7 linked regions of the Homo sapiens genome follow. The protein of the gene in region 3 interacts with the protein of the main gene of each other region in a biochemical or structural test. Each region holds a gene or a part of one and is shown on either strand. Other genes may lie near its edges. The genes, in order: PDZRN3, ARHGEF11, MAP7D2, TJP3, APBA3, FRMPD2 and HTRA3.

What was found.
Region 1: the proteins of MAP7D2 (region 3) and PDZRN3 interact in a test that uses a peptide from one of them, tested with the Homo sapiens proteins (one large-scale study listed by IntAct).
Region 2: the proteins of MAP7D2 (region 3) and ARHGEF11 interact in a test that uses a peptide from one of them, tested with the Homo sapiens proteins (one large-scale study listed by IntAct).
Region 4: the proteins of MAP7D2 (region 3) and TJP3 interact in a test that uses a peptide from one of them, tested with the Homo sapiens proteins (one large-scale study listed by IntAct).
Region 5: the proteins of MAP7D2 (region 3) and APBA3 interact in a test that uses a peptide from one of them, tested with the Homo sapiens proteins (one large-scale study listed by IntAct).
Region 6: the proteins of MAP7D2 (region 3) and FRMPD2 interact in a test that uses a peptide from one of them, tested with the Homo sapiens proteins (one large-scale study listed by IntAct).
Region 7: the proteins of MAP7D2 (region 3) and HTRA3 interact in a test that uses a peptide from one of them, tested with the Homo sapiens proteins (one large-scale study listed by IntAct).

What each region holds. Positions count from the first base shown.
Region 1 is NC_000003.12:73,604,442-73,607,941, forward strand, and holds part of PDZRN3 (E3 ubiquitin-protein ligase PDZRN3), read right to left. Parts: intron 1-3,500. UniProt on the Homo sapiens protein: E3 ubiquitin-protein ligase. Plays an important role in regulating the surface level of MUSK on myotubes. Mediates the ubiquitination of MUSK, promoting its endocytosis and lysosomal degradation. Might contribute to terminal myogenic differentiation.
Region 2 is NC_000001.11:156,948,243-156,951,742, reverse strand, and holds part of ARHGEF11 (rho guanine nucleotide exchange factor 11), read left to right. Parts: intron 1-43; coding exon 44-170; intron 171-1,725; exon of another isoform or gene 1,726-3,117; coding exon of another isoform or gene 3,118-3,170; intron 3,171-3,223; coding exon of another isoform or gene 3,224-3,244; coding exon 3,245-3,424; intron 3,425-3,500. UniProt on the Homo sapiens protein: May play a role in the regulation of RhoA GTPase by guanine nucleotide-binding alpha-12 (GNA12) and alpha-13 (GNA13). Acts as guanine nucleotide exchange factor (GEF) for RhoA GTPase and may act as GTPase-activating protein (GAP) for GNA12 and GNA13.
Region 3 is NC_000023.11:20,026,408-20,029,907, reverse strand, and holds part of MAP7D2 (MAP7 domain-containing protein 2), read left to right. Parts: intron 1-3,500. UniProt on the Homo sapiens protein: Microtubule-stabilizing protein that plays a role in the control of cell motility and neurite outgrowth via direct binding to the microtubule. Acts as a critical cofactor for kinesin transport.
Region 4 is NC_000019.10:3,714,884-3,718,383, reverse strand, and holds part of TJP3 (tight junction protein ZO-3), read right to left. Parts: intron 1-3,500. UniProt on the Homo sapiens protein: TJP1, TJP2, and TJP3 are closely related scaffolding proteins that link tight junction (TJ) transmembrane proteins such as claudins, junctional adhesion molecules, and occludin to the actin cytoskeleton.
Region 5 is NC_000019.10:3,751,693-3,755,192, forward strand, and holds part of APBA3 (amyloid-beta A4 precursor protein-binding family A member 3), read right to left. Parts: intron 2,649-3,500; coding exon 2,503-2,648; intron 2,414-2,502; coding exon 2,327-2,413; intron 2,235-2,326; coding exon 2,073-2,234; intron 1,299-2,072; coding exon 1,128-1,298; intron 1,029-1,127; coding exon 816-1,028; intron 1-815. UniProt on the Homo sapiens protein: May modulate processing of the amyloid-beta precursor protein (APP) and hence formation of APP-beta. May enhance the activity of HIF1A in macrophages by inhibiting the activity of HIF1AN.
Region 6 is NC_000010.11:48,184,197-48,187,696, reverse strand, and holds part of FRMPD2 (FERM and PDZ domain-containing protein 2), read left to right. Parts: intron 1-404; coding exon 405-505; intron 506-2,051; coding exon 2,052-2,144; intron 2,145-2,815; coding exon 2,816-2,923; intron 2,924-3,014; coding exon 3,015-3,131; intron 3,132-3,500.
Region 7 is NC_000004.12:8,304,176-8,307,598, reverse strand, and holds the end of HTRA3 (serine protease HTRA3 isoform 1 precursor), read right to left. Parts: intron 3,416-3,423; coding exon 3,320-3,415; intron 1,629-3,319; coding exon 1,463-1,628; 3' UTR 501-1,462; downstream 1-500. UniProt on the Homo sapiens protein: Serine protease that cleaves beta-casein/CSN2 as well as several extracellular matrix (ECM) proteoglycans such as decorin/DCN, biglycan/BGN and fibronectin/FN1.

The sequences.
Region 1 (3,500 bases), on a different chromosome or scaffold from region 3:
ACACAGCTAAAAAGTGGTATGGCTCAGTTTCAAACTGAGGCGAAGCGGATCCTCTTGCACATTACATGCTCTGTGTGCAATATTGTCTCCCACTGAGAAAACTCAAAACACACAGGAATTCAGAAGTCCAACATTTCAGGCTATGGAATATTCCACTAGATGAACTTGAAGAGTCTCAATGGACCACAAAAGATTTATGAACAAGCTTGAGTTCCCTAAGAGGTGATGTCAATATATCAAATGAAAAGAGATCTGTGTTTACTCTGATTTAACCACTTTGCATTTCTTGGCTGGAGAGAAAGAGGGAGATAGGGGATAGGATTTTGGCTTTCGTTTGTTTTGCAAAATACCACATTGCACATAAGTAATAACTCTTAAGGAGTACTAGAAAGTTCAAGCAAAAATCAGAGAGGAAGAAGCAAGAACAAACACCAGCAGTGAGATTAAACTGAGACAGTGGTGAGGGGTGGGGAAGGATGCAAAAAGCACATAAAGCAGGCCAGGCATGGCAGCTCACACCTGCAATCCCAGCACTTTGGGAGGCCGAGGCTGGTGGATCGCCTGAGCTCAGGAATTCAAGACCAGCCTGAACAACATGGTGAAACCCCATCTCTAGCAATACAAAAATTTAGCCGAGCATTTATGGTCCCAGCTACTTGGGAGGCTGAGGTGGGAGGATGGCTTGAGCCTGGGAGGCAGAGGTTGCAGTGAGCCAAGATTGTGCCGTTGCACTCCAACCTGGGTGACAGAGTGAGACCCCCGTCTCAAAAAAAAAAAAAAAGCTAGATTTCTCTCTTAAAAGGCATCTCTTTATTCTTAGTTTGTTTGGCTCCTCTCCTAAGAGAGTTAGTTACAGCTATTTATCAAGGTGAACTAATATGACTTGGAATTTATTTTGTTTTGCTGCCTTGAGTAAGAGAGAAATGAAAGGGGATTGTTTTCATAGCAAGGGTACCTAACGATAAAGTACACTTCCCAAAGGCTTAAGTGAGAGGTTTGATACAACAGACTAGCTGCTGTTTCTTTAGGGTTATGAGGACTAACAAATGAATGATATGATTTTGCTAAGAGTATTGCATACTGATCATGCAATGAAAAGCCTTATGTCAGAGCTATGGCTGGGCTATTTCACAACCCAACCAAGCATCTAACACAGGAATTCCTTGGGAAACACAGACATCATTTGTACTGTATTCTTCTAGTAACTAACAACGTGTGTGCATTGTTGCTCATCTTGGCTTTTTAGCATGTACTCAATGACCTGCCAGATTTTCCAGGCAACAGTGCAGAATACATTCAGGTTTCATGATGCTATTTCTGCTAATCAGGGCAAATTTTGAAAAACACTATGGCAAACACATGCACATGGAATTAAATTTTCCTCTGGGGACCATGCAGGCAGTTCTTGCAAAAAGACCACATAAATTGAAAATACTAATGCAAGCTACAAAATCAGGTCTGGCTTGTACTTAAAGCACCTTTTGTAAAAAAGAAAAAGAAAATAACTTAGACATGCTCTTTGATAAGCACAGGGAAGAACTGTATTCCAGTGGGGTTGGAATGTCATTTTGCACCTGGTGAGTGTGGAAACTGAACACCATCTTCACTGGCTTTAACACAGTAGGTTTCCCAACAATCACTTGGCCACAGGCCTCTCCATTTTGAGCAATTTCCAACAGTAGGCTTTGGTGTGGTTTAGACCTGGGGCAGGGAATAGGTCTTCTTGGTTTGGGTTCTTTTGTTTGCTATAGCTTGTGAAACACCTAATTGTGAAGTGAATCTTAATTTATTAAAGTTGTTTCTCAAAACTGGTAACAAAGGGTGGAGGAATAATTATGAATGTAAACAAGGAACAGCCAACTCATCTGTGCTAAATGGCAAAACATGTTCTTGATGGTAAGTTGTAGAACATGGGCTCATGTTCTGAACCACGGGCTCAAGTCTGACCCTGCTGCTTCCTGGAGCCAAATGTCTAGATATTTGAGTGCAGTTTGCTCCCTCAGTCCCTCCGAAGGCTGGAGAGTACGGAGGACCCCTGGCAGCAAGGACTAAATCAGAACAGCACATGATGACATGCAGCCTGGGATCTCAGACAACTGGTAAAAGGAAAAAATAAAAATATACCAACCTCACGCGGTTCTATAGTTTTTTAAGAATTCCACAGAGCGAATGCAAGAAATACAACCATGTGATGACATCCCTGGGGCTCAATAAAGTGGGAATTATCCCTGTCCCCATCTACCTTCATATTTACAATTTAGTCTCACCATTTAAAATGTTCTTTTTTATATGTATGTTTGATAAGACAGATAATGTTCATCATTTTAACAACTGCAAACACATAATTAAGTTGTTGTTTCTTATAATAAGCCATTGTTTGTTTCTTTTTGAAACTGTGGAATGGGCTAAAAGCAAAGGGAATTTAATCATAAATCTCTTTGTGTCATTCCCTTCAACTGAAGCCATGTGTTGGCCACTCCCGCCCTAGGTAATTTAAATCCCAGACTCAAGACTTAGGCCCTTTGGGGTCAAGCCCTTGTTTTCTTCACCAGGCCTCTTTCTGGCCACTTCCCTGCCCATCCCTCAACTCTTTCCACACTCTGCTTACTTGCAGCTCCCCCAGTTCCCAACTCTGTTCCTGCTCCAGGCCTTGTATGAGCGCCAATCCCCACCCCTGCAAAACCCCAGCGTCCAACCGCTTTCTTCTAGCTCAGGGGTCTTCACAGGTGAATGCGTGTAACACAATGCATTGGAATGGCAGGAGAACATACTTCACATTTTCTTCATAGTCATATTTTAATTTCATTATTTAAAATACTCCCTTTTGTACGTAACTTTTTATAAGGCACATAATGTATTCGTTTGGTACTGTGTACACATTATATATACAAATAAAATATGGTCCTCTGATCTAGCAAATTCCTGTTCAACCTTCTGAACTCAGCTCCAACGGCCCCTCCCCAGGACACCTCCTCCCGCAGGGTTAACTCATCCCAGGGCATCATTAGCTGTGGGCAGGCACAGAGTACATCAATGAGAGCAGTGCTATGCTCTCCCAACTCATCAGTCTCTCCATCTGGAGGTGAGCTCCATGAGGGCAGGGCACACACTATTCCTATCTGGATGGCTGGCATCTTCTCGTCCTTTAGGTTTCTGTTTACTACTATCTCCTCTTGTCTTTCCTGATAACCCAAGCTAATGATACCCTTTGCTTCTTGGCTGGTATCTGCCATGTGCCATCCTCCCATTTTTTTTTCCTTCATCATACTTCTTCCAATCCAATCTCTAATTATTGTATTCACTTGTTTCTTGTCTGACATCCCCACCAGGACTCAATGACCACAGGGCCTCAGTCTTTCTGGCCTCCATTGTATCTCCTGGCCCTTAGCAAACAGCCTATGTTCAATACTTATTTGTTGAATGAAAGATTTTTGTTTTCTTTTCCTTTAACTACTTTCCTTTTAAGCTAATAAACAAGGAGATGGTCAGGAAAAGAAAAG
Region 2 (3,500 bases), on a different chromosome or scaffold from region 3:
TGAACAGCAAGCCTAGTGTCCTTCATTTTCTTTTTGCTTCTAGTCAAACCAGGCAATGTGAGGAACATCATTCAGCACTTTGAGAACAACCAGCAGTATGATGCCCCAGAACCTGGGACACAACGACTCTCGACCGGAAGCTTTCCTGAGGACCTGCTGGAGAGTGACAGGTAGCACTGGCTGGATGGGACTCGCCAGCTGCTCGAAGAGTGGGTCATGGGCAGGGCTGATGCTAGGGTTTAATTCCAGCTACTTGACCCCTCTCCACTAGCTTCTAAGGCTCCCTTTACAGAACTTCCTCCCCACCCCCAGTATCTTCAGGAGACACATTGTGTGCCAGTGAACAGGCCAGTGGAAGAGCAAGCAGATCCCCGACTTCCAGCCCAAGAACTACACACTTTTCAAATTCCCTTTGGATTTATCACCTGACTACTCAGTAGCCTTCATCCAAGATCGAGCTAGGTGATAAAAAGCAGCTAATCAGGAAACCCTAAGTGACAAGGATAAGGAAGACTATAGTGGGGGCAAGAGGGAGTCCTGGGGAAAAAAGACCCAGGCAGGCAAAAGAAAGTGGTTTCCTGTCTGTATGTGAAGAAGAGAGCCAGAGATGAGGTTCTGCTGGGTACTTTAAAGACAAATGATGTAACTATAGGCATCAGATGTCCACCTCAGCAAAGAGAGGCAAAGTGGATTGATTACAAATGGACTGTTTTTCCCTTTTCAAGAAGAAAAAGGGGAATTGAGACTGGCATCTCTCATATTCTTCTTTGGTCAGGTTCTAACTAGAGTCCCCATCTGGTATGAAAACTTGTTCTTGGACTTACTTGCTCTTGATTGTGGCATGACAGCAGTCAAGTCATGTCTAAAATTCTATAGCCAACACTTAAAAACCAACACCACCCTTAAAGGTGACTTAAACAGGTAGAGTAATATGGTCTTGTGTGGGGGGAAATAATGCTTGTGTACAGTCAAGCCTCAGAGCCACTGAGCTGGAGTATAGGCAGGCATGAAAGCAAGTCAGTATGCAGCAGCGTGGATATTCAAGCCATTTTGCCTTCGTTTGTTTGTTTGTTTGTTTTGGGGATTTTTTTTTCTTTTTTAAAGAGACAGGATCTTTCTCTGTCACCCAGGCTGGATTGCAGTGGTGCAATCATAGCTCACTGCAGCCTCAAACTCCTGGGTTCAAGGGATCCTCCCACCTCAGCCTCCTGAGTAACTAGGGATACAGGCATGCACCACTGCACCTGGCTAATTGATTTTTATTTTTATTTTTTTGAGACAGTCTCACTATGTTGCCCAGCTTGGTCTCGAACTCCCAACCACAGCAATCTTCCTGCCTCAGCCTCCCAAAGTGCTAGGATTATAGGCATGAGCCACTGCACCTGGCCTATTTTGCCTTTGAAATAACTAATTATCAAACCATAAGCCAACCTTTCCTGCTTGAATGCAGGTTACTCCTTTCTGTTTATATGAAGCCTTTTTTCAGCTTAACACGTGTTAAAAGATTTTGCTGCCATGAGAATTGACAGATTTACAGGAGACAAAGGTTAGATTTGTACTGGGGGAAGGTTGAGTTCTAACATTAATGGGTAAGTTAAATACGCAAATTATGTGATTCCTGTGGAAGCACATGATGTCGTAGATATATCAAATATTTTAAGATTATAAGACATCAACATTTTGAGAAAATATTTGAGACCATTTACAAAGTTGCATTCTTGGCATTGCTAGGTAAATTTGCCCTAAGACACTTGCTAGGATCCTAAAGCTACTCTAAGCAGAAGCCTTTGGGTTTGATGATTATCAACTCATTGGCAATCTCAGAAGAAATAGTATTAGCAATATGGTGGGTCAGAGATTGTTGTAGATACTCAACAGGTATAAGATGCCCCAGTTCTAGAAGGCAATACCCTAGGAATTTGGGGGCAAAGACAGATGATATGCCTCACTTCTTGGTGAGGAGCATTACTTACTTCTGGGTGCTTGAAGGAAGGTGCTTAGCTCTGCAGCCCCAGTAACTCCACTGGGTGTTTGTTGTGGTGGTACAGTGACCCATTAGGACACTGAAAAGTGTTCCGAGTTAGTCTGGGTTGGGATTGTTCTAACACAATTCTGGAGGGTGAATTCAATAAGGGATCAGTGGGCAGTATGTTTTCTAACCCTGCAGACAAAACCCTCAGGACCCTAGGAGATGAGCTCCATTTTGGATCATCTGGCAGTTTGGGCACAATGAATGGAGACCGAGACATTTAGCTCCTCATTGCAGCAACCTGCTGTGCTATTAAGAGCTCTGCAGACATTTCCAGGCCTCCTGTGGTCCTAGAAGCAGAGCAGGATGTAGATTACTAATAATATCAGAAAACCAGCCCAACAGGGCCACAGCATGGAGGTGGGGTGACCATCCTGGGGCAGCTAGGGGTCAGAGGTGCCAGCTGTCTTGGGCTGATGCACTGCAGGACTCGACACCGCAACACCCAGTCATCAGCATCTCATCAAACCCCAGAGACACTCAGTAGCCAAGCACGGCAGGCCAAGGAGCGGGTCCTGCCTATCAGTAAAAAGGCCCCTTTAAGCACAAGCCTGTCTGCTCTTGAGAGGAAATGGAATCTTAGGAACAGTATTGTTAAGATAAGAATGGAACTCATCCACATCACAACTGGAAGGCTAAGAATCCAGCAGCAGATAGAACTTTCTGACAGGCAGTGTGGAAAATCCTAAAATGAGCTGTGAATATAGTGACTCCACTTTCCTCTTAAGACCTCTTAAAAGAGGTTCGCCTCAGGCAGAGTTAAAGGTGGGAGCTGACCCGTTCCAAAGCAGAGGCAACGTGAACTGGCCACTAGGGGCAGGGAGCTGGGACCTTGTGTTCCCTGTTGAGGGACGATGATGTCTACCACCTTCTTGACAGAAGCATGGTGTCTCAGGCCTCTGGACACACTACAACTCAGAGTCTGTTAGCCCCAGATTTCATCTTCCTGTTAGGATCCCTTCCTAATAGCTCCAGAGGAAGATGACTGTCCATCCATCAGGCTAGGCTGGGGAGAGAGGAGGAGTTTGTAGAGCAGCAAAAATAGTCTGTCATTGAGAAGCTTCCACTGCCATCCAGCTGCTTTGGCCATGTTCAGGAGGAGAACCTGTGGCACGGAGGCATCTTTGAGATGGAGCCACAGGTAAGAGTTAGCCAGGATGTAAGCATGGCCCACTGACTTCCCAAGTCCCAAAGTCTTTTGTCCCTTCCCCCCAGTTCACGCTCAGAGATTCGCCTGGGCCGCTCTGAAAGCCTCAAGGGCCGGGAAGAGATGAAACGGTCTCGAAAGGCAGAGAACGTGCCCCGCTCTCGCAGTGATGTTGACATGGATGCTGCTGCGGAGGCTACTCGCCTGCACCAGTCAGCCTCGTCCTCTACCTCCAGCCTCTCCACCAGGTGGGCAGGGCTACAACGGCTGCACCCATGGACATCTCAGGGGTGGCGGCAAGGATAGAGGGTTGCTGAGAGTTGA
Region 3 (3,500 bases):
TCCATGTAAGCAAGTGGCAAAGCAGGATGAGCAGGAAACTTGACAGATTGTAGATAACATTGGGAACTTCTTTTTTTTAATTCTGTATTTTGTTCACTCACTGTAAAAAAAAAAAAAATCTATGACTTGCCCACACTTTTCTAATTTGAAGGTCATGTTTGTGTGTGCATACAAGTGTGTGTGTTTTCTAACTTACTCTGTTTATTGGGCAGGGGCTGGGGTCGGGGACTGTAAACAGACTTCTTAATGAGCTTTATCCCAAAGAATCCACCCTTACTTCTCAGGTAGAAGTTATTTTTAAATGTGTGCTCATGGGTAATTGGTCCAGTTTTATTTAGAATGGAACCTCGCAGTCTGTGGCGTGAACTGAACCTACATGTGACCATTCTCTTAAAACAAGCAAGGCTGTTCAGGGCTATGCCAACTTGAGGCTGTCAGAACCTCCCCCACCTAGGCCACCCTGGCCTTTTCTCCCTAGGATTAGGATCTTGTCCTGCATTTCCATTTACTTAGATGGGTCTGACATAGCCAACAGGCTCCTGCCACACTGACTGAGTGTGTGAGCCATTTAAGCAGACACAGAGGTTGTGCTGGAACTCAGATGCTGGCTATGGCTGCTGAGGCTGCAGCCAGTTCAGGCCTCCCACCCACTCCCCCCAGTCCAGCCCTGGAGACCCTTGTGGTCGGAGTCATGTCTGCAGGAAGGCTTCTTGTCTGCCTACCCATTCATGGGCAGAAGTGCCAGCACACTTCAGGGACCCCCGAAGCAGAGCCCAACTCTTTCTATACTGCTTAGAGAAGCCCAGAGTGTGGGCTCGCAGGCCAGTTCCAGGGAGAGAACAAGAACAGGCAGGGTTGTGCACACCCAGCAGCTTTGCTCATTCTCACCAATCAGAGAAATCGTACCTCATTCCACGGGGAGGAGGGTGAGGGCAAGCAAGAAGATCAGGTGAGATTTGCCAGGCCTTCCAATGCCAGAAAGTCCTCCTCAACAGGTCAAGGTAGGAATGCTTATGGGATGAGAAAGTGTTTCCATCTGTTATCATCTACCACGAGATAGTCTTTCCTACAGCCTCTATCGCCAAGTTTCAAATCCACTCCCTGCCCTTGTACTGTTGTTGGATCAAAGGACACATATCATTCACGTGACAATCCAGTGGAGAGATAATGTGCTTTGATCTTGGCAAGGCACTAGACCAAGTCTTTTGAGACACCCTCGTGGTGGTTGGGTGGCGGGTATACAGCTCTACTGTGGGCGCCACTCACCTTAGATAACAGCGTGAAAGGAAGACGTGGCCAAGCAAAAGACCACCAGCTGTATCTTTATACATATTAACTGAGACTAAATGCAGGCTCAGCTAATGTGTACAGTTAGTACACATTGTGTAACTCATTGGAAAACCATGCTCAATGGAGCACTGTCAGTGTGAGCAAGCAGGACATGGGCTCCCCTGTTATTACAGTTCATCTTCCTGGTTTTGGTTCATTCTTGTCTGTGAGGATTATTTGGATTTTTAGTTTATCATCTAATTGATCAACACCAATACCTAACAGCTATTGAGTGCCTACTCTATGCCAGTTCTATAAAGAACATCTTGGGGTCTTGGTGACCCCAAACTCAGACTTAGCTGCGCTGGCAACACAGGAAGTAGAGCAGAGCTGTAAGAAGGCTCTGTGGCTTAGTTCACTGTGGGAAGCCATTTCACCTCTCTAAGCCTAGTTTTCTCATCTGTAAAGAGGCCATGATAATAGTACCTGTGTCATACCATTTACACACATATGTACACAAATATGTGTCTGTAGACATTTAGCAGCCTAGTGGCTGGTGTGTAGACAGCACTCAGTAAACATGGACACAACTGCAGAGAGTGTGAATGGAGGTCTGAGCTCCAAATGGCCAGGGTAAGGACCTGGTCTGACTGTGTCAGAACACATGAGGACTCAACGTGCTGAATCGTAGAGGCACTCACACATTACCTCTCAAGCCAAGGCTCTCAGGAGCCTCAAGGTCACCATGGGGATTGGACACTACCCCTCCAAGCAGAACAGCTCCACTCTTACCTACTGGGTACAGACAGAGTGTGTGTGCATCTGTCTCTGTCTCTGTCTGTCTCTGTCTCTCTCTCTCTCTCTCTCTCTCTCTCTCTCTCCCCCCGCCTTCTCTCTCCCTCTCTCCCTCTCTTTCTCTCTCCCTCTCTCCCTCTCTTTCTCTCTCCCTCTCTCCCTCCCCGCCCTACCCCATGTCTCAGGGATTCTCAGTTGAGGGAGATCTTGTCCCTAAGGGGACGTTTAGCAATGTCTGAAGGCATTTTTGGTTGTCATAACCTGCGTGGGGAGCGGACTGCTGCTGGCATCTAGTGAATGGAGGCCAGGGATGCTGCTAAACATCCCACAGTGCCCAGGACAACCCCACAACAAAGCACTATCCAGCCCCAAATGTCAGTGATGCCAGGTTGAGGAAGCCTGCTCTGCGGGCGTATATGTATGGCGGGGCAGGGGGATTCTCTGCATGGCTTTTATTTGGTAAAAGTCTAGGAAAAAATAGAAGATCAGCGTTATATAGTGTACCTGGAAAAAACCACCTGATTGCTAAGCACTCTGAAAAACCACATCCCTTAGGAGAACCCGAGTGTGGGGCCTGAGCCCAAGGCCAGAGGGGAGAATAGTCTGCAGAGAGTCGAAGCACCATCCACAAAGACAAGGTGTCTTGGGAGTTCTGAGTTGCTCCAGGCCTAATGGCATGAGGACACAGGGAAGCCACTTGGCCAATATGAAAGTCCACATGCCACTTGAGGATTCTTTTCTCCTTCAAGACCAAGTTTAATATTGATCTGATCATATTTCCCCTTATTAGCAGGATCTGATTTGGTAACTCTAAGCCTCTGGTGAAAAATCGTCTTTGAATATCAGGGTGATTTGCCATTTTTATTGCTGTTTTTATAGATCAAAAAAGTCAGATATTAGCAATTCATGGTTCAACCTGCTGAGGATTGAGGGTGATGACTTGTAATTTCTGTATACATTACTTTATATCCTTCCTAGAGGAACTCTGTACAAATGCCCACATCCCTGTTCAAACCTCTAGGGAAACTGGGCATCTCAAGCTAAGCTGTTACCCCTGTCCTGAACAAGCAGCACTCACCAGGAGCCCAGCCTAGGCTGGCGTACCTGTAACGGACCCTTTCCCAGCAGACATAAGACGAGCTCCTGTGTTTTAACCAAGTGGCTTGTCCTCACCTTTTGCATCTGCCCAGTTGGGAGAAGAGAGATTCTTTTAAACCTGAGACCCTCCAAAAAACACCCCCCATCCCCATCTCTTGGCTGTGTTCCTTGGCATTTAAAAAGAAATGGGGAACCTTGAAGACTTGCTAAGTAAAATAAGCCAGACATAAAAGGACAAATACTGTGTCATTCCATTTATACGAGTCACCTGGAAGAGGCACATTCACAGAGACAGGAAGTAGAAGGGTGATTGCCAGGGGCTGAGGGGAGGGGAATGG
Region 4 (3,500 bases), on a different chromosome or scaffold from region 3:
TGGCCAGGAACAGTGGCTCACGCTTGTAGTCCCAGCACTTTGGAAGGCCGAGGCGGGAGGATCTCTTGAGGCCAGGAGAGACCAGCCTGAGTAACAGAGTGAGACTTCCATCTCTACACACACACAGACACACACACACACACACACACACACACACACACACACACACACTTTTTTTTTTTTTTTTTTTTTGAGTTGGAGTCTCGCCCTGTTGCCCAGGCGCAATCTCAGCTCACTGCAAGCTCTGCTTCCCGGGTTCACGCCATTCTCCTGCCTCAGCCTCCCGAGTAGCTGGGACTACAGGCACATGCCCGGCTGATTTTTGTACTTTTAGTAGAGATGGGGTTTCACCGTGTTAGCCAGGATGGTCTCAAACTCCTGACCTTGTGATCCGCCCCCCTCGGCCTCCCTAAGTGCTGGGATTATAGGCGTGAGCCATCGTGCCCGGCCTTTTTTTTTTTTTTTAATTAGCCAGTCTTGGTGGCACTTGCCTGTACTCCCAGCTACTTGGGAAGCTGAGCTGGGAGGATTGCTTGAGCCCAGGCGGTGGAGGCTGCAGTAAGTCATGGTCACACCACTGTACTCTCATTCCTGGGCAACACAGTGAGACCCCCATCTCCACATCCACAAAAATTTTTAAAAATATCTTAGGCAGGGTGCAGTGGCTCATGCCTGTCATCCCAGCACTCTGGGAGGCCAAGGCAGGAGGATCACTTGAGTCAGGAGTTGGAGGCCAGCCTGGCCCACAGGGCAAAACCCATCTCTACAAAAATACGAAAAATTAGCCAAGGATGGTGGCAGGCGCCTGTAATCCCAGCTACTCAGGAGGCTGAGGCAAGAGAATCACTTGACCCTGGGAGGCGGCGGTTGCAGTGAGCTGAGATCACGCCACTGCACTCCAGCCTGGGTGACAGGGCAGACAGCACAACACTATGTTTCAAAAAAAAATAAAATTATATATATATATATATATATATAAGCTATGGCTGGGCACAGTGGCTCACGCCTGTAATCCCACTTTGGATGGCCAAGGCGGCCGAATCACTTGAGGTCAGGAGTTTGAGACCAGCCTGGCCAACATGGTGAAACTCTGTCTGTACTAAAAATATAACAGTCATGGGCCAGGCGTGGTGGCTCGTGCCTGTAATCCCAGCACTTTGGGAGGTCGAGGCGGGCGGATCACCTGAGGTTGGGAGTTCGAGACCAGCCTGACCAACATGGAGAAACCTCGTCTCTACTAAAAATACAAAATTAGCTGGGTGTGGTGGCACATGCCTGTAATCCCAGCTACTAGAGAGGCTGAGGCAAGAGAATTGCTTGAGCCCGGGAGGCGGAGGTTGCAGTGAGCCGAAATCGGGCCATTGCACTCCAGCCTGGGCAACAAGAGCGAAACTCCGTCTCAAAAAAAAAAAAAAAAGTCACCTGGGCGTGTTGGCACCCGCCTGTAATCCCAGGTACTCGGGAGGCTGAGGCAGGAGAATCACTTGAACCTGGGAGGCAGAGGGTGCAGTGAGCCGAGATCGTGCCACTGTCTCCAACCTGGGCGACAGACTGAGACTCTGTTTCAAAAAAAAAAAAAAAATATATATATATATATATATATGTATGAGCTGGGTGTGGTAGCAGGCACCTCTAGGCGCTGAAGTGGGAGGATCATTTGAGCCCAGGAGGTCGAGGCTGCAGTGATCCATGATCTTGCCCTTGCACTCCAGCCTGGGTGACAGAGCTAGACGCTGTCTCAAAAATAAATAAAGAAATAAGTGGGTTAAAGTCCTAGCAGTGAATGGGGCTCCCGGGCCATGTTTACTGGCATATGCTTGGCTGCAGCCCCAGTTACACACAACACTCGTGCGCCCACTTTGCAGCTGAGAAAACTGAGGCCAGATGGTGAGCTGGCCTGAGGGATTTGGCTGCAGCTCTGTTTGCCCCTGCACCTCGAACTCCAAGCCAGTGCCTCTCACCAGAGGGGGACCCTTGGCAACGTCTTGAGACATTTTGGTGTTCAATACCAGGCCGAGCGCGGTGACTCACACCTGTAATTCCAGCACTTTGAGAGGCTGAGATGGGCGGATCACTTGAGGTCAATAGTTCGAGAGCAGCCTGGCCAACAGGGTGAAACCCCGTCTCTACTCAAAATACAGAAATTAGCTGGGCGTAGTGACAGGCACCTGTAATCCCTGCTACTCGGGAGGCTGAGGCAGGAGAATCACTTGAACCCGGGAGGCAGAGGTCGCAGTGATCTGAGATGGCGCCACTGCACTCCAGCCTGGGCAATGGAGCAAGACTCCATCTCAAAAATAAAACAAGTCGGGCGTGGTGGCTCACGCCTGTAATCCCAGCACTTCGGGAGGCTGAGGTGGGTGGATCACGTGAGGTCAGGAGTTCGAGACCAGCCTGGCCAACATGGGGAAACCCCATCTCTACTAAAAATACAAAAATTAGCCGAGTGTGGTGGTGGGTGCCTGTAATCCCAGCTACTCGGGAGGCCGAGGCAGGAGAGTTGCTTGAACCCAGGAGGCAGAGGCTGTAGTGAGCCGAGATTGCGCCATTGCACTCCAGCCTGGATGACAAGAGCGAGACTCCAACTCAAAAAAATAAAATAAAATGAAACAATAAAAAAATAAACCTGGAAGGTTCTCCTGGCATGAGTGAGTGGAGGCCAGGGATACTGCTAAGCACCCTGCATTGCCCAGAATGGCCCCATCCCAGAGAAGGATCTGGCCCCAAATGTCAATGGGCAACGCAGAGAAATCCCACTGTCAACCCCTCTAAGAGAGGAAGCTGGATAACTGCACCAGGACACATTGTCTTCCTCCAACCACCCACCGTCTGCTCTCATATCCATGCCCTGCTCAAGAACACTCGATGGCTCCCTAGTACCATCCTCCAAACCTGGGTTCAAATCCAAGGCTTTGGAGATGGGCATAGCCTTAAGCCCCTTATTCCCACCACCCCTGACCTTCGGATCACCTTAATGAATTAAAAACCTGCTTTTGGCCGGGCGCGGTGGCTCACACCTGTAATCCCAGCACTTTGGGAGGCCGAGGCGGGCGGATCACGAGGTCAGGAGATCGAGACCATCCTGGATAACACGGTGAAACCCCATCTCTACTAAAAATACAAAAATATAGCTGGGTGTGGTGGCGGGCGCCTGTAGTCCCAGCTACTCGGGAGGCTGAGGCAGGAGAATGGCGTGAACCCGGGAGGCGGAGGTTGCAGTGAGCCGAGATTGCGCCACTGCGCTCCAGCCTGGGCGACAGAGCGAGACTCCATCTCAAAAAAAAAAAAAACCAACCAACCAAACAAACAAACAAAAAACCTGGTTTTCTACTGTTGCCTCACGAAGTAAAAATAATAATAGCAAAAAGAAAAGGAAAAAAAGAGAAAATCTGCTTTTCAGCAATCTACTTCATTTGTGCCTTAATTCTTCTGTGCATTCAGTCACTCAGTCAACAAAACTGTTGCAAGCCAAGTATATGACGTGTGATTGGGAACCAGCG
Region 5 (3,500 bases), on a different chromosome or scaffold from region 3:
TGATAGAGAACAGACTCGGGCCCGGTGGGCATGGGGTCGAAGCTGTCTGACCCGAGCCATATCGCTTCCTTATGGCCAAAAGCCAAGCCGACAGCCGGGCTCTCCAGGCAGGCTGCAAACATCTGTAAGAGGCTGCACGGACTGTGGCCTCATTCCTCTGACGGGGGCAGGTCCCTCCCTATCTCTGGGCCTCAGTTTCCCCATCTGAGCAACAAAGGTTGAGACTCAAAAACATGGCCAGGTGCAGTGGCTCACACCTGTAATCCCAGCACTGTGGGAGGCCGAGGCAGGTGGATCACTTGAGGCCAGGAGCTCAAGACCAGCCTGGCCAACCAACATAGTGAGACTCCATCTCTACAAAAAATAAAACAATAAACTGGGCGTGGTGGTGCACACCTGTGGTCCCAGCTACTCGGGAGGCTGAGGAAGGAGATTTGCTTGAGCCCAGAAGGTCAAGGCTGCAATGAGCCAGGTGCACCGCTGCACTCCAGCCTGGGCAAGAGTGAGACCTTGTCTCAAACAAACAAACCCCCCCAGAAATTAGCTGTTTCTTGTTAGAGAGAGAGAGTGGCCCAGCCCTGGAGCTGGGCCACCCGCATTTCCATCCTGGCTCTGGTACTAGGGAGGTGCCCTGGACAAGTGGCCTCCCTTCTCCAGGCCTCAGTTTCCCCAAGGGCACACCAGTGGGCAGGACTTAAAAGTTCGACTTTGTCCCTCCTGGCTGGGCTGGAGAGACCTGGCCAGGGAGGAGACCTCTCTGGGACTCAGCTCCCCTTCCTGGGAGTGTGGGGGCCCTGCCACACCAGGAAACTCACGCGGACAGCGGCCTGGCACGCAGCCAGGGGCAGCCCCACCAGGCTGGTCCCGTTGATGGCGGTCAGGCGGTCCCCGATGCTGAGGGCCCCCGAGCGCTCAGCAGGCCCCCCGTGCAGCAGGTTGGCGATGACGGCTGTGGGCAGCAGGGAGCCCCAGCCCGACTCCACCAGGGCCACGCCCAGGCCCTCCCCTCGCCGCTTCTCGAGGTGCACCTGGGACACACAGGGGGCGCGGAGGCTGCTCAGCAGGGCCCGGTGCAGGTGCACGGGTGTGGGGGGCACCAGGTGGGGGCTGCCCAGCACCTCACTCACCTCCCGGCAGTTGTCACTGTTGGAGAAGTGGTCCAGGTCCCCATTATGGAGGTGGCAGGCGCCTGGGCTCGGGTGCACGCCCACCTGGCTGGGGTCAATACCGCTTTCCCGTAGGAACTGGCTGTAGGCGGCGGCGAAGGCCTGGCCAATGGCCTGGGCGATGAGCTGGGCCTGCGGGGAGGAGTGGCGCGTCCCTGGGGTGTCCCACCCACCTCCTCCAGGTCCCCAAAGTCCCCAGGGTCCTCAGAGCTGAGCCCTCCTGTCCCCACCTGGGGTGAGAGTCCCAGGACACAGCCTTCTGCCCTGGGGCTTTGGGGGAGGTGGAGAGACAGCCGCATCTTGGGGAATCTACGGGGAGAAGGAAGGGGAGGGGCAGCCCTGGGCTGGGGGGACGATGAGGGAGGCAGCTCCCTGCGCATGGGCTGTGGGAAAAGCTATCAAAGACCCAGCCAGGGGGCCTGGGGCCTCATGGGTGGCAGGGACAGCCCAGGAGCGGGCAAGGTTTCGGGGAGTCGGCCGAGAGTCTTGGAGTCTTATAGGAGGCTGGACGCGGTGGCTCACGCCTGTAATTGCAGCACTTTGGGAGGCTGAGGTGGGTGGATCGCTTGAGCCCAGGAGTTTGAGACCGTGTTCACCTGGGCAACAGAGCGAGACCGTGTCTCTATAAAAAATACAAAAATTAGCCAGGCATGGTGATACCCCGGTGGTCCCAGCTACTAGAGAGGCTGAAGTGGGAGGATCGCTTGAGCCTGGAAGGTTGAGGCTGCAGTGAACTATGATTGCGCCACTGCACTCCAGCCTGGGTGACAGAAGGAGACCTTGTCCCAAAAAAAGAATTTAAAAATAAGCTTATGGGAGGGAGGTTAAATGCACGGCCCACTGAGGGAGGCGACAGTTGCAGTGAGGAGGGCCTCAGGAGGGTGGCCCCGCGCCCTGGCTGCTCACGTCCTCCGCGTAGAATACGTGGCAGAGCATCTTGTAGAGGCGGCGGCCGTGGTCCTGGGGTGCCGGCCTCCGTGCCAGCCGCCGCCGCGCCATCAGCACCAGCACGCAGCCGATGTCGGCTGTGTAGGAGATGGTATGCAGGGCGTGGTCCATCATGGCCTCCTGGGGCGGGAGAGGCAGCCTGGGTGGGTTGGGGGGCCGTGCCAGGCTCGATCACCCCACCCGCATCCCTGGGGCGGGTCCCTGCCCCGTACCTGGGAGTCCGCTGTCAAGACCTTGATCCTCTTGGTGGAGACGAACAGGTCCACCTCCGTCATGGGCTGGGTCTCCCCATCGGGGGCCTGTGGGTGGCGGCGTGGGAGGTGGAGGCCCCCACAGACCCAGCCTGCAGCCCACCCGCCTGCCCGCCCGGCCCCGGCCGCCCCCTCACCTTGACGCGGTCCATGGCCTCCCGGGCCTGGGCCATGCGCGTGCTGGTGGGCGGGTTCCGTTCCGACACCAGCTGGGTGGACCCCAGGTACCTGGCCCCAAATATGACACCGTCCAGGAGGTCTTCATGGTCACAGGGACCAGGCACTGAGGGCGACAGCGAAGAGGGTCGGCCCCCAGGGGCCCACTCCCACAGGCTCTGCCCCAGGGCTACGCTCTCCGAGATGGCCGGGAGACACAGTGTTCTAGCTGGTGGCTTAGCACTCTCCAGCCAGGAAGCACAGCCCACTGTTCTAGAACCATCCAAGCAGCCTGGCCCTCACAGGTCTAGAACCTTCTGTCCATCCCTCAAGGACTCGCAGGTGGGAAACCAGTGAGTCCAGGCCATGGCTGGATTCAAAGCCAGATCTAGCACCCACAGATACCTTCACCCCGTGTCCCCAGAATTCCATGATCAGGCCGGAACCAGACAGTCCCACTCCTGCTTTTTTGAGACACGGTCTCGCTCTGTCGCCCAGGCTGGAGCTCGGTGGTGTGATCTCAGCTCACTGCAACCTCCGCTTCCTGGGTTCAAACGATTCTCCTGCCTCAGTCTCATGAGTAGCTGGGATTACAGGCGCCCACCACCACGCCTGGCTAGTTTTTGTATTTTTAGTAGAGACGGGGTTTCGCCACGTTGGCCAGGCTGGTCTCAAACTCCCGACCTCAAGTGATCCACCCGCCTTGGCCTCCTAAAGTACTGGGATGACAGGCGTGAGCCACGACGCTCCACCCCCCACTCCAATTTCGAAACCTCCACAACATTCTAGAACCACAGTGGACCCCTGCTTCTTGGTTCTGGAATTCCCTCCATCAATCTAGAACTGGCCAGCTCTGCCCACTGTTCTAGAACCGTCTGCAGTCAGCCCAGGATAGCAGGCAGCTCTGTTCCCGGGTTGTAGAACCACTCAGAACAGAGACAGACCCTGCTGCCTGTCTAAAATTCCCATACTCTCCAGA
Region 6 (3,500 bases), on a different chromosome or scaffold from region 3:
ACTAAGAGTGCTGGTGTTTGACACTTACTATCTCATTTCAGTTCCCTTAGAAGCCTGGGAAGTAGGAATGTTATTCTTATTTTATGGTTGAAAAAATGGAGGTTTACAGGATCACGTATCTTGCACATAGTAGGAGGCTCATATGAAGCCAGAGTTACCTCAGTGTCCCCTCTGAGACATAAAGATCCTACAGCCATTTTTCCCAGTGTCCTCCTAATAACTAGATCAGCCCTCGATGGGGTCCCTCTGAGGAGCTGCTGGATGACTGGACACAAGGCTGCCCTCCCCGGGCCATCATCCATACTCAGAAATGCCAAGAAGTTGCCTCCCTGAGCCACCTTATCTAACCTCACTGTCCTTCCCCGTGGGCCACCTTATCTAACCTCATTTTCTTTTCCCGGCAGCCCCTGCACTGGCCGGGAGCAGCTGAAGAGTGCCTGTGTGATCCAGAAGCCAATGACCTGGGACTCTCTCTCTGGACCACCTGTTCAGAGCATGCATGCAGGTATGGGCCAGGCCACGACCAGGTCTTGGGTGGAGGAACCCCTACGCAGGAAGCTTGCTTTGAGTCTTTTACCACCACTTATTTTTGCTTCCCACACAATGTTTGTAACCTTCTTGTTTTTTGAATTGTTTTCTTTTTAAACTACTTGTGATTGGGAAGAGGCGTTTAGCTTTGGCTGGGTATGAGGATCTGAAATGTGTCAGCTCTGGCGAAGACAATCCCAGCACTCTTGTCCAGAAGGAAGAATACCTGCTATGGAGGGTGTGTTCAGAAAAAGGCACCATTCACTGTAGATATGCTTCTTTATGCAGGCCAGAACATCACCTCCCAGTATTCACCAGAAAACATACACAGAGTAGATGGCAGTCCCTTCAGCCATGCATCCTCCTGGCCAGTTCCCTGTTGAATGTGAGGACAAAGAGATCCGACACTTGGAAAAATATCTCTACTCAGTGAGCATTAAGCCTGAGGGTTGGATCAGTGTATTAGTGCGTTTTCACGCTGCTGATAAAGACATACCCAAGACTGGGAAGAAAAAGAGGTTTAATTGGACTTACAGTTCCACATGGCTGGGGAGGCCTCAGAATCACGGTGGGAGGTGAAAGGCACTTCTTACATGATGGCAGCAAGAGAAAAATGAGGAAGAAACAAAAGCGGAAACCCCGGATAAACCCATCAGATCTCGTGAGACTTATTCACTATCACGAGAATAGCATGGGAAAGACCAGCCCCCGTGATTCAGTTACTTCCCCCTGGGTCCCTCCCACAGCATGCAGGAATTCTGGGAGATACAATTCAAGTTGAGATTTGGGTGGGGACACAGCCAAACCATATCAATCAGGAAAACTGCCAGGCAACTCTTTACAAGTAACTTGTCTGCCAATTTCTGCCAAGGTCCCTGGGGGAGGGAGAGACATGGAAGGACTGAAGTGGTGGGTCACCATTTGGGGATTTTCCCAAGTACACTGTGGCACACACTGAAGTGCCCCACTCCAGGACTCCAGCTCTCCAGGAACAGCTTCAGGGCTCTGCCTGGGGCTCCTCCATGATCCAAGCCAGGGGAAGACCACAGGTCACACAGGCTGGGCTGCTGGCACCTTGTCACCCCTGGTTATTTGAGGCCTGGGATGGGAAGGCTTTACTGTCTCACCTCTGTTTTAGCTTTTGTTTTTGTTTTGACTCTCAGCAATTATTAATACATCTCTGCTCATCCTCTGTCTTGTCCCAAAACCAATGCGGAAAAAAATAGCTACAGTAAGTCATACAGAAAACAAGCACCATAGCCCATCCTGTTCTTGCCTCTGCTCTTTAAGCTGGAACTTGAGCAACACTGAGTGACACTCCAGAGAGGCTCATGTGAGTGTGTGTTCAGGTGTCCATTCCCAGCACTGCTGGGAGATTAAATATGAGCTACTTTTGTTTTCAGGATTGTGTGCGTGTGAATGTGTGTGCGCGCATGTGTGTGAAATGCTGTTTACTCCTTTTGTATTAGCTCCCAAATAATTTGGGGGAAAAGCACAATGTGGTGCTCTGATTCTACCTCTAGGCTCAAAGAATAATAGGAGGAAGAGCTTTATAGCTGAACCGGGCCGAGAAATTGTACGTGTGACACTGAAACGTGACCCACATCGTGGTTTTGGTAAGAGGGCTCCCTGTAGGTGAGGCCCAGTCTCTACTGCTGGGCAAAGTGGGGAGGTGGGTACTGTTTTCCCTTTCAACTTGCCTACTCCCCTTTCCTATCCCTCCTCTCCCAGTCTGCCTTTTCTGGTAATCACTTCTGTTTTTTTTCTCCCTTTAATTGTTCCTAAAGAGCAATGGGACTTTTGTTTCCAAGTTTTTCTTTTTGGGGTGCATCTAAGTACAATGCAGAAAAAGATTTTTTCCCCTAATACCATGTAACAACATTCCTCTAGTCAGCTATGGGGAAGAAGAGTCAATTTATCTCACCTCTTACTAGTGACCACTTTCTAAGACCCGAAAAACTGTAGAAGAAACAAGGTACGGAGACAAGGTACTTGATTAAAAATCATTTCTTTCCTATGTCTCATTATCTACTGGAGCAAAATCCAGTGCATATTGGTGGTTTGTATTCCTAGCTTTAGCTGTGCTTACTAATGGGGAACAATCCACCTTTCTCCAAGTATCATGGTAAAGTAGAAAAGATCCTCTATTTGAGGATCAGAAGACCTGACTGTAACTATCAGCTAATGCCACTTGGTAGCTGTGTGATATGAGGGAAATAACCTAACCTCTCTGAACAGCAAAATCACTAAGTATCATCTTATCATGGACTATCATCTTGGATTACAGGGTTTGTCATTAATGAGGGAGAGTATTCAGGCCAAGCTGACCCTGGCATTTTTATATCTTCTATTATACCTGGAGGACCAGCAGAAAAAGCAAAAACGATCAAACCAGGTACATCTTTTTAAATTACTAGAGATGCTGTTTTAAGAAACCACTCTTTTTTATTTCCTTGAAGGATTATTGAGATGTTTTATTTTTCTAGGAGGGCAGATACTAGCCCTGAATCACATCAGTCTGGAGGGCTTCACATTCAACATGGCTGTTAGGATGATCCAGAATTCCCCTGACAACATAGAATTAATTATTTCTCAGTCAAAAGGTATGTTTTAACCCACTCTTGGGAGCTTAAGAGGCTCCCCTGTTTTCAGGAGTACATGATTACTGTGAGGTACTAGACCTTGAAGTCCACGTAGGTCTTCTATATTGCTTTCCTCATGGTGTTGGCTTGCAAAGAAGCAGTGTAGTGGCACAAATTAATAAGCTTTGCAATTTCAGGGGCAGAATGGGCGTTACCATGCTTGTCTTGCTGAAAGGGAGTAACCTACTCTAATTTTGTTAGACACGGCTGGATACAACCAGTCTTTTTTTTTCTGTCAACTCTCCTTGCATGGCAGGGAGGACCTTTTTATTGCCACCCAAAGTCCTTGTTGATAGGGTCGGCTCCAGGATTTCTATATTTTGTATAGAA
Region 7 (3,423 bases), on a different chromosome or scaffold from region 3:
AAATTGCTCTCTGCCTCAGTTTCCCCATCGCTGGATGGGTGGCAGGGAGGGTGAAATAGATGTGAGAAAGGGTTCTTCATGTGACCAGACGTGCACAGTGGGGCTTAGTGGGAGCTCCCCGTAAGCCGGGTGGCTTCCCAAGTGCTGCATCTGTCACCTTGCATCCCAGGGCATCCAGGAGGTCAGCACAGCAGAGCCAGCCTTCCTGCTGGACAGAGGCAGAGGCCAAGGTAGGGAGGGGAACATCTCTTGCCCAAGACCACGAAGCCGGAAGTAAGCGGAGGAGCCAGGACTTGAGCCGGGCTGCCTGACTCGGAGCTGGCCCTCCACAGCGCCACATGACCCCGAGACCTGGTGTGCCCCAGTGCTCAGCTGTCATAGAAACCCTTTAAAGGCCCGTGTCTTTGCAGGTATGCCCAGTCATGTGTTAGATGGGTCCCCAGGAAGAACCCTGGCCAGTGGTGGGTAGGCTGCCCCAGTGCCCTGCTGGCTGAGAACCGTGTGCTTGTAAACTTTATTTTCCATACAGTAGAGAAACATACAGTACAAGCAACACTGGGAATCCATTTACAGCAAAGCTCACAAATGCCCCTTGAGACACACTCGTTCCCTGGATGAGGGGGTGGTGCCCAGCAGCCTGCATGCCTCTGGGCGGCACTTCCATGCGAGCGGCTGCTGCATCCCAGAGCTGCGTGGGAAGGGGAAGCCGGCTCAGTCCTCACACCCCGCAGCTCCACGTCCACTGTCCTCTGCAGGCTGCCCCATGGCCGCCTTGGGGAGGAGAAGCTTCCCCAGGCAGCAGCCAACTTTCCACGTGCTCCCCGCGGCCTCCTGCCTGCCTGGGGAGGAAAACCTCATGGCAGGGCGGGGCTCAGCTCCGCAGCCAGGGGGCATTCACTCAGTGCCTGCTCTGGGCTGGACCCCACCCCCGCACCCCAAAGGGATCAGATGTGACCTGTCCTCCAGGGACCCCAGGCTGGCAGGCAGCAGCCCTGGCCCTACAGCTTGGTAAGTCCTAGGGCAGAGGGAAGCTGGGGCCTCAGGTCAGGTGGGCGTTTGTCAGGGGGGAAGAAGCTTGGCAGCCCAGACCTGCAGTAGGAGGGGCAGGAGCAGGGGATACTGCAGATGGGTGTTCACAGGGGCAGAGGCGGGAAGCTAGGAGAGGAGGGGACCTCCATGGAAGGCAGTTTTGTGAATATCCGGAGAACTTGGAAGTGACTTTCAGGATCATCTGTACAAGGGGATGTTGGGCTTCCCTCCCCGGCACCGGGATGTGGATCCAACACTCCCCAGGCGGAAATTCGGGCCCCTGGCCAAGCCCAGCCTCCGCTCTGCCCCGGACAGCCAGGAGGAGGCTGCCGCCCTGCTGAGGACCGACGGTGGTCCTTCGTCCTGATCTCGGGGGGGCGCTGCCCTCCGTTGTCTGCAGGCTCTGACGCTTGGCGCTGGAGGAATGCGCCCCTCACATGACCACCTCAGGTGCGATGCTGAAGAGGAGGTCGTCGTTCCCCCGCCGCACCTCCAGTAGGAGAGGAGACTCGGTCAGCACGGCCTCCTGCAGCTCACTCGAGTCCACTAGAGGACGCCCGTTGACCTTGACGATGATGTCACCATCTTGGATGCCGCCTCTGCCAACAGGAGAGACGGGGTCACCACCCACCGCCTCCCCAGGCACAGCCTTCCCAGGCCCGGCCCAGAGCGAGGCACAGTCAGGGTCAATGACAACATTTCAACAAAAGTCATCTCGATGGGAAAGAACAGTGCCCCAGCCCCAAAGCTCTCACACCAGAAGAAAACCAATGTCACACGACAGGGAAACAACCTTTCAAACTGCTTCTCCCATGCGTCAGAAGGGTGGGTTCAAGCTCCCGCTGCAGCCCTCCTAGCTGGGCCAGGCACTCTGTCCCCTTGTGCCTCAGTTTTCATGTCTACCATCCTATGTGGAAACGCACTTTGCAAATTATAAAGGCCCAGGAGTAGGTTCTGCTGTTACTGCAGTTACGAAGACGTCTATGTGGGAGGCAGAGCTCACGGGGCCAGCCTTCTCTCTGCATGAGGCTCACTGAGACCTCCCCACTGCTGGGAAGGAAGGTGATGGTACTGTGCTCAGCTGCGTGGGCACCAGCATCAGGACCCTCACATGCCAGCTGTGTGACCTGGAAGAGTAACTTCTCTAAACCTCAGTCCCTCCACCTGTAAAATGGGTGAGGGCAGGAGCCTGCACCTCCCTGGCTGCAGTGAGGATTAACTGAGATGTGTGTGGAAAATTTCACCCAATTTCAACAATTTTTACTGCAGGCCTGCTGCGGGCAGGACAAGTGTGCCATCTGTGCTCATCACAGAAGTTCACGCGGGGCCTCCCACCTTCAAGCCCAGCCTCTGAGGATGCACAGTACAGTCGGCCCTTGAACAACATGGGTCTGAACTGTGTGGGTCCACTTATATGTGGATTTTTCCCACTGCAGATGAAGACCGAGGCTAAGGAGGGGAGGCAACTGGTTCAGAGCCCTTCTTGGGAGTGGGTCAGCCATGCCAGCATGTGGTAGTGTCGCTGCACGCCTGCCTCAGCCTATGGTGTTGCAATGCTTAACATTTCTCTAGTACTGGAAGACTTCAAAGAAAGCAATCCTTTATCCATTTCATCTACAAAGTCTCCTGGGGGTAGAAATCCCAGCACTTTGGGAGGCCAAGGCAGGTGGATCGCCTGAGGTCAGCAGTTCAAGACTAGCCTGGCCAACGTGGTGAAACCCCTTCTCTACTAAAAATACAAAAACAATTAGCAGGGCATGGTGGTGGGCACTTGTAATCTGAGCTACTCAGAAGGCTGAGGCAGGAGAGTCGCTTGAGCCCAGGAGGCAGAGGTTGCAGTGAGCTGAGATCGCGACACTGCACTCCAGGCTGGGCAACAAGAGGGAGACTGTCTCAAAAAAAAAAAAAAAAAAAAAAAAAAAAAAACAATAGGCTGAATTATCTCCACTTTACAATGAGGAAGCTGAGTCCCAGAAAGACCCAGGACCCAGGCTGGTCCCCAGCTAGTGAAAGAGTCTGGCTTGGAGTGGGTTCTTAGCCCAACAGGGACTCTTCAGCCTCTGCTTCTCGAAGGAAATGACATTGTGGGACTTAGGACGTACACAGTCAGGGCTCTAGGGACCATTCAGCTCTCCAGCCTCCTCTGGCTTAGCAGACACGCTAGAATCCACCTGCCCCTTCCCGGTCACTTTGCTGGGAAGCTCAAGGTCACATGAGGTCAGTGGGGCAGCCCCAGCCCAGACCTCACGCCTGCCCCATGCCTCGAGCGATCTCCTCTGGCAGAGCCTACCTCTGAGAAGGTGAATTCGGCGCAACCTCTTGCACATAAATTCCACTGCTGACCTCTGGGAAGTCCGGGTTGCTGGCCTTCAGCTCATCCACCAGGCTGGAAAG